Linked DNA regions of Homo sapiens. The protein of the gene in region 2 interacts with the protein of the main gene of each other region in a biochemical or structural test. Each region holds a gene or a part of one and is shown on either strand. Other genes may lie near its edges.

Evidence for each region.
Region 1: the proteins of CDC42EP3 (region 2) and MFHAS1 form a complex in vitro, tested with the Homo sapiens proteins (one large-scale study listed by BioGRID and IntAct).

What each region holds. Positions count from the first base shown.
Region 1 is NC_000008.11:8,883,622-8,887,140, forward strand, and holds part of MFHAS1 (malignant fibrous histiocytoma-amplified sequence 1), read right to left. Parts: intron 1-3,519. UniProt on the Homo sapiens protein: Probable GTP-binding protein. Functions in innate immunity and more specifically the inflammatory response as a regulator of the Toll-like receptor TLR2 and TLR4 signaling pathways.
Region 2 is NC_000002.12:37,644,537-37,647,654, reverse strand, and holds part of CDC42EP3 (cdc42 effector protein 3), read left to right. Parts: exon of another isoform or gene 1-261; intron 262-832; 5' UTR 833-1,067; coding exon 1,068-1,832; 3' UTR 1,833-3,118.

The DNA of each region.
Region 1 (3,519 bases), on a different chromosome or scaffold from region 2:
CACTTGAACCCAGGAGGTGGAGGTTGCAATGAGCTCAGACAGCGCCACTACACTCCAGCCTGGGCAACAGAGCGAGACTCAGTCTCAAAAAAAAAAAAAAAAAAAAAAAAGAAAGGGCTCCCATGGATAGAAGCAAGTTAATAGGTAGATGAGAAGAAAAACAGAAATGTCCAATTCCTCCTTTCCCCACTCATTCCCCTCCTATAATACAGAGTTAAAGCCCCTCACCTCTTCACGGACAAAGGGGAATAACCTCAGAGTATGACATAAAATATCCACTAAATAAAAAATACTGGTTGGGTATGGTGGCTCACGCCTCTAATCCCAACATTTTGGGAGGCTGAGTGGGGAGGACCATTTGAGGCCAGGAGATCAAGACCAGCTTGGGCAACATAAAAAGGCCCTATCTCTATTTCACAAACACACACACACACACACACACACACACACACACACACACAAAAAGAAAAAAAAAATTAAAGAAAAAATACTTTAGGAAATTCTAAACTACTTGTGCAGAGATGGACTTAAGAGTCTATTCCAGGGTTTAAAGAAGAGGCACCTAATATTTAAAATAATTCAAATACTCCAAAGGCCTTTCTAGCCTTCTAGAACTCTATTCTGCACAGTATTTGTTTATCCTAGTGCCTGATTAAGGTTTTGATTTTTACATAAAACAAAGTCCCAGGGAGTTCAGAGGCCTATTCATAAAAAGAAAAGCCAAGAAGCATCAATATTAATAAAGCTTAACCAAAGAGATATTGAAAAACCTTTGTAAAATTAAAAACAATGACTAATTCAATCCAAACAACTAGGTCATGCTCAAATTCCAGTAATTCTAAAACTTAGATATAATAAGGCAAGAATTTTGCTTTGCTTCAGTGGTCAAAATGAAGGACCCATTCAAGGGTAAGACCAGTCATAGACGCACAATGGGAATGCTGGAGGAACACTGTGAGGGGGAGGGAGTTGGGAAGCTAAACAAAGCCAGATAATCATTACAATACTACCTGGGATTTTCACTGAGTGTGTGAATAACAAAGAAAAAGAGATAGTTCTCAGGCAGGGCATGGTGGCTCAAGCCTATAATCCCAGCACTTTGGAAGGCTGAGGCAGGCAGACTTTGAGACCAGCCTGAGCAACACAGCGAAACCCTGTCTCTACAAAACAACACAAAAATTAGCCAGGCATGGTAGGGTGTTTCTGGAGTCCCAGCTACTCAGGAGGCTGAAGTAGGAGGATCATCACCTGAGCCCAAGAGGTCGAGGCTGCAGTAAGCCATTATTGCCCCAATGCATTCCAACCTCGGTGACAGAGTGAGACCCTGCCCCCACCCCCCCAAAAAAAAAGTTATTTCTCACAAAAAGACCAAACTATCATTCAGCAAACATCTGAGAGGCTCTGCAGAAGCTACTAAGTCTCGGGTGTGTCTCTGGCTCAGAAGCAGCAAGTGAACAACCTAATCAAAGATATATCATGACGCAACCAAACACCAACAAAACAAGTCAAATATGCTGTGTTGTCGGAGAGGTACACTCCGTGTGCAAGAAACTGAGGGACAGAAGACATTTGGCATGAGATACAAAAAGGCATCAAGTTACTGAGTAAATGAAAGACAGTAAAGCTAAAGAAAGCCACATAACTCATTCTGTCTACTGATTTGGGTTGCTTTCTCCTTATTTTTTAAAATGACCTTAAATAATTTGGAGAGTAGGATATTTAGTGAAAATCTGCAGTCAATGCAAGTTTAACTCACTAAGACACACTCTTCCAATTCAAAAACACAGTATTCACTCATCTGCTTAAAAGGAATATCAAAGCACTTGAATCTTGCTGCAGGCCCGTGTCCTAACCACCACATCTTAATGTACCCTCACTCAACTTCAAGAGTACCAACTCTTTGAGTTTAGAGGTCATACTGGTAGAACAGAATAAAAGCATAAACAAATATCCCACAAGAAGAAACTTGCTCTAAGACAAGTATACAGGACCAACCAATGAGAAGGAAAACAGCAAAAGGAAGGGAATCCTGGCTACCAGCTATGGGCAGCAAGTCTGCAAAAAAGAAAGGGTACCTGCAGGAAGCAGGTAAAGACTTTCTTTTCGGAGCCAGGGTCTTGCCCTGTCGCCCAGGCTGGAGCGCAGTGGCACAATCTCAGCTCACTGCAACCTCCGCCTCCCAAGTTCAAGGGATTCTCGTGCCTCATTCTTCCCAGGAGCTGGGATTACAGGCATGAGCCACCATGCCCAGCTAATTTTTTTGTATTTTTTGTAGAGATGGGGTTTCACCAGGTTGACCAGGCTAGGATGTTGGCCAGGATGGAGAAAGCAGGTCAAGACTTTCACAGTGACATTTAGGCTTCATCATAGGCCATCTCCGAGTTTCCAAAAGAATCTCCTGTCACTCAACCCATTTGTCTTAAATAAGATGTCTTAAAAAGATAATCACGTTGTCAGATTACCTATTTTAAATAAGACAAATAGGTCTTCTCTCTGACAATGTGATTTATTTTTACAAAAAACTATGAAACTAGTGATTGCTGGATGTGCATTTTCCAATCATTTCTTTTTTTTTTTTTAAGAGACAGGGTCAGAGTGCAATGGCACAATCATAGTTCACTGCAACCTCAAACTCCCATGCTCAAGTGATTGTCCCACCTCAGCCCCCCAACTAGCTGGGACCACAAGTGTGCACGCTTAGCTGATTTTTATTTTTTATTTTTTTTTGTAGACACGGAGTCTGGCTACATTACTCAGGCTGGTCTCGAACTCCTTGACCCAAGTGATCCTCCTGCCTCAGCCTCCCAAAGCAAAGGGATTACAGCCCTGAGCCACTGCACGCTGCCCATTACTTTTCTTGTATAAACCAAAATAAGAAAAGAGAAATTTACCATTATACTTCCCGTGGTCAACTACAGTAGGGCAGCTCAGGCCAGAAAATCCAACAGGACAAGGCCAAAATAGGCTTTTCACATAAAAATACTTTAAAAGATATTAGTGCAACTTTATACATTTTTTCTGTATAAAATCAAGAGAGACAGTAATTTACTATTTACTTTTACTGTAACATCCCAAAGTTAAGAAAATTCAAAGTCCAACTTTTTCAGCGTTGCATATAAAATTGTTATAGTTTATAGGACAACTTAACGCTTTTATAAAACATAAAAGTAAACAATTTTTAATGTCCCCAGAAGCAAAATGACTTCTTAAAAAGACAAAGGTGGCCAAGCCTAGTGGCTCACGCTTATAATCCCAGCACTTTGCGAGACTGAGGTGGGTGGATCATCTGAGGTCAGGAGTTCAAGACCAGCCTGGCCAACCTGGCGAAACCCCCGCCTCTACTAAAAATACAAAAATTAGCCAGGTGTGGTGGCGCATGCCTCTAATTCCAGCTACTTGGGAGGCTGAGGCAGGAGAATCGCTTGAATCCAGGAGGCAGAGGTTGCAGTGAGTCAAGATCACTCCACTGCACTCCAGCCTGGGCAACAGAGCAAGACTCCATCTCAAAAACAAACAAAC
Region 2 (3,118 bases):
ATCATGGGGGCTCCCTTCGAATTCTGCCTACTGCATGGAGGATATAGCCTTATCAGTAATGTTTCAGAAGTGTTCCCAAGTGAAGGCCCAGCCTGTAATAGAGATTCACAATGTTTTCTCTTTGAAGTGAAGCAGTTTTGTTCATTTCCTCCCATCTCAGAATGACTTCAAATCCTGACATCCTCGACAGCCCAATACTTTGCCACAACCTGATTACAACTCTAGCTCTCTTATTTACTGGCTATATGTTATTGAGAAAAGGTAACTTTCTAGGGGAAGGGCTTATCCTGAATCTCCGTTTTCTTATCTGTAAGAATGTATTCCACTAACATTTTTAGGACAGTAGCATATAATAGTTATTGTCACTTATTAAATAATTCCAGCACCTTTCCTTTAGGACTGTTCATTTTATTGCATTAACTTATGTACATATGGAACTCAACAATGAAATATTAGTGTTGCTAGTATGCACATCAAAGCAAAAGGAAAATGTATTTTAAAACAAATCCAGTTGTATTTAAGGAGCTGAAATCACTGATCCTATGCTTACAGCAATTCTTAGAGGAAAATGACTAAAACCATAGACATGTCCAGAAGATGTGCCCATGGCTATGTCTAAAAAGTACTGGTGTCATAGATATGGGGTTTTTAGGTCTTTCTCTTTCCTGTTTTCTCTAAGATGAAAATTTTTATCCACTTACTGGAGGGAAACAATAAGTTCAGCATTAGTTGAAACTGGCCCTGCCATTATTTACAGGCTCTTGTGAAAAGGGAGGCCCTAGGGCACCCAAAAGGGTCTTTAGCTTATAACCTGCTTTGGTTTCTTCTGCAGGTTTGTCCTGGTTGTGGTCAAGACTGGATGATGTAACTGGCTCTCTAGGAAGCCTCACTTGGCCGTAACCTCAGGAAGGTTCTCTTTGACCCCATCTCATTTCGAAGCCACTTCTGAAGCCACTTGAGAAAAATGATGTGACAGTTCCTATCAAAAAGGATTCAGAAACATATACCATCTGTGAAGAAAGTGGCCCTTTCTCCCGCTTGCAAAATAGACATTCTCAAATTCCAAAATGCCAGCCAAGACCCCAATTTACCTGAAAGCAGCCAATAACAAGAAAGGAAAGAAATTTAAACTGAGGGACATTCTGTCTCCTGATATGATCAGTCCCCCGCTTGGAGACTTTCGCCACACCATCCACATTGGCAAAGAGGGCCAGCACGATGTCTTTGGAGATATTTCCTTTCTTCAAGGGAACTACGAGCTTTTACCTGGAAACCAGGAGAAAGCACACCTGGGCCAGTTCCCTGGGCATAATGAGTTCTTCCGGGCCAACAGCACCTCGGACTCTGTGTTCACAGAAACGCCCTCCCCGGTGCTCAAAAATGCCATCTCCCTCCCGACCATTGGAGGATCCCAAGCTCTCATGTTGCCCTTATTGTCACCAGTGACATTTAATTCCAAACAGGAGTCCTTCGGGCCAGCAAAGCTGCCCAGGCTTAGCTGCGAGCCCGTCATGGAGGAAAAAGCTCAGGAGAAAAGCAGTCTGTTGGAGAATGGGACAGTCCACCAGGGAGACACCTCGTGGGGCTCCAGCGGTTCTGCATCTCAGTCCAGCCAAGGCAGAGACAGCCACTCCTCCAGCCTGTCCGAACAGTACCCCGACTGGCCAGCCGAGGACATGTTTGACCATCCCACCCCATGCGAGCTCATCAAGGGAAAGACTAAGTCAGAGGAGTCCCTCTCTGACCTTACAGGTTCCCTCCTCTCCCTGCAGCTTGATCTTGGGCCCTCACTTTTGGATGAGGTGCTGAATGTAATGGATAAAAATAAGTAACAAGATGCCAACTTTTTTCCTTTGGGGTAAAAGGTACAAAAACAAACTAACCACAGTTGAAGAGAAGGGCTTCCGGAGCTGTATTTGCAGTTTTGTGTTGGGTTTTCTAAAATAATATTCTTACAAAGTATTTTTTTACCTGTTATGCCCTGTTTGCAAAAACAATTTAGAAAAAAACAACAAAGCAAAACCTATCTTGGCAAAAAAAGGAAGTGAGTCAGAGCCCATTTTCAGGAGGCATTGGTGATGTTCGGCTCACATATTGTTTGCAGACACACAAGAAATCTGGCTTGGCCAGGATTGGCACTAGCTATGAAGGGCTGAGCGAGTCACATTAAGGAACTTCACGGAACTTTATAGCACTCCGACATTTTCTGAGCAAGAGGAAGTCAAAATTTATTTAACACCTAAGCCTTTTTGTAGACTCTTTTCTATATATTGCTTAGGCTCACCATAGCGAATTCTCCAGTGTTAAAACTTTTCTGTTTTCACATTTGAACTTTATGGGTTTTGGGGATTTTCTTGTAGTTCTTATATATCCCTATATATTATATCTATATTGCAAAATTTTGACTGTCAGCTACATGTTGGTAAGACACAGGCAAAGTATTACTGTAACTAAGTTATTTTTAAAGTTAAAATATATTTTTACGTGCCTTTGGCTTTTTATTGCAGAGTCTACATTTTATAGATTCTACATCAGATGTTGTCACTTATTTCCATTGGGATTCCATTGTAAGCTGTGTATGTGCGTGTTTGGAAAAGTGTATTCATACTTAGTTTTTTTTTCTTCATCTGTTATCATACTTTTAACAGCAACCAATAACGGATTGTAAAGTGTAAAGGCACAGGTTACTCATGATGCTTCTGCAGAGACTGTGGGCTACACCACATATGTTATTTGGAAATATAGGTATTTTAGTACAGTACATACTTGCATTACATAGGTACTTCAAGCAACACAATAAAAAGTAAATGATAAAGTGAACTTGCTTGTTTATAGTAATAAACAAGACCATAAGAGAATAAGTATAGCTAGAGAAATTGCTTCTCTGAAATGTACATGAGCCCTTAAGGTAAGAGATGATTTCCATCTACTCTCATTTTGATTACTTCCTTATGGTTTGAGAGGCTAGAAACTGAGCCTCTCTACTTTTGGAAAAATGAACATGTGAGGTCAGATTTTTTTTTTTTTTTTTAAGTCAGCACTGATGCCACCCTCTCAGTGGTCATTTCTGAGCATCTTCCTGACTTGAACACCTTCTACAGCAAACTCTTGCAAGTCC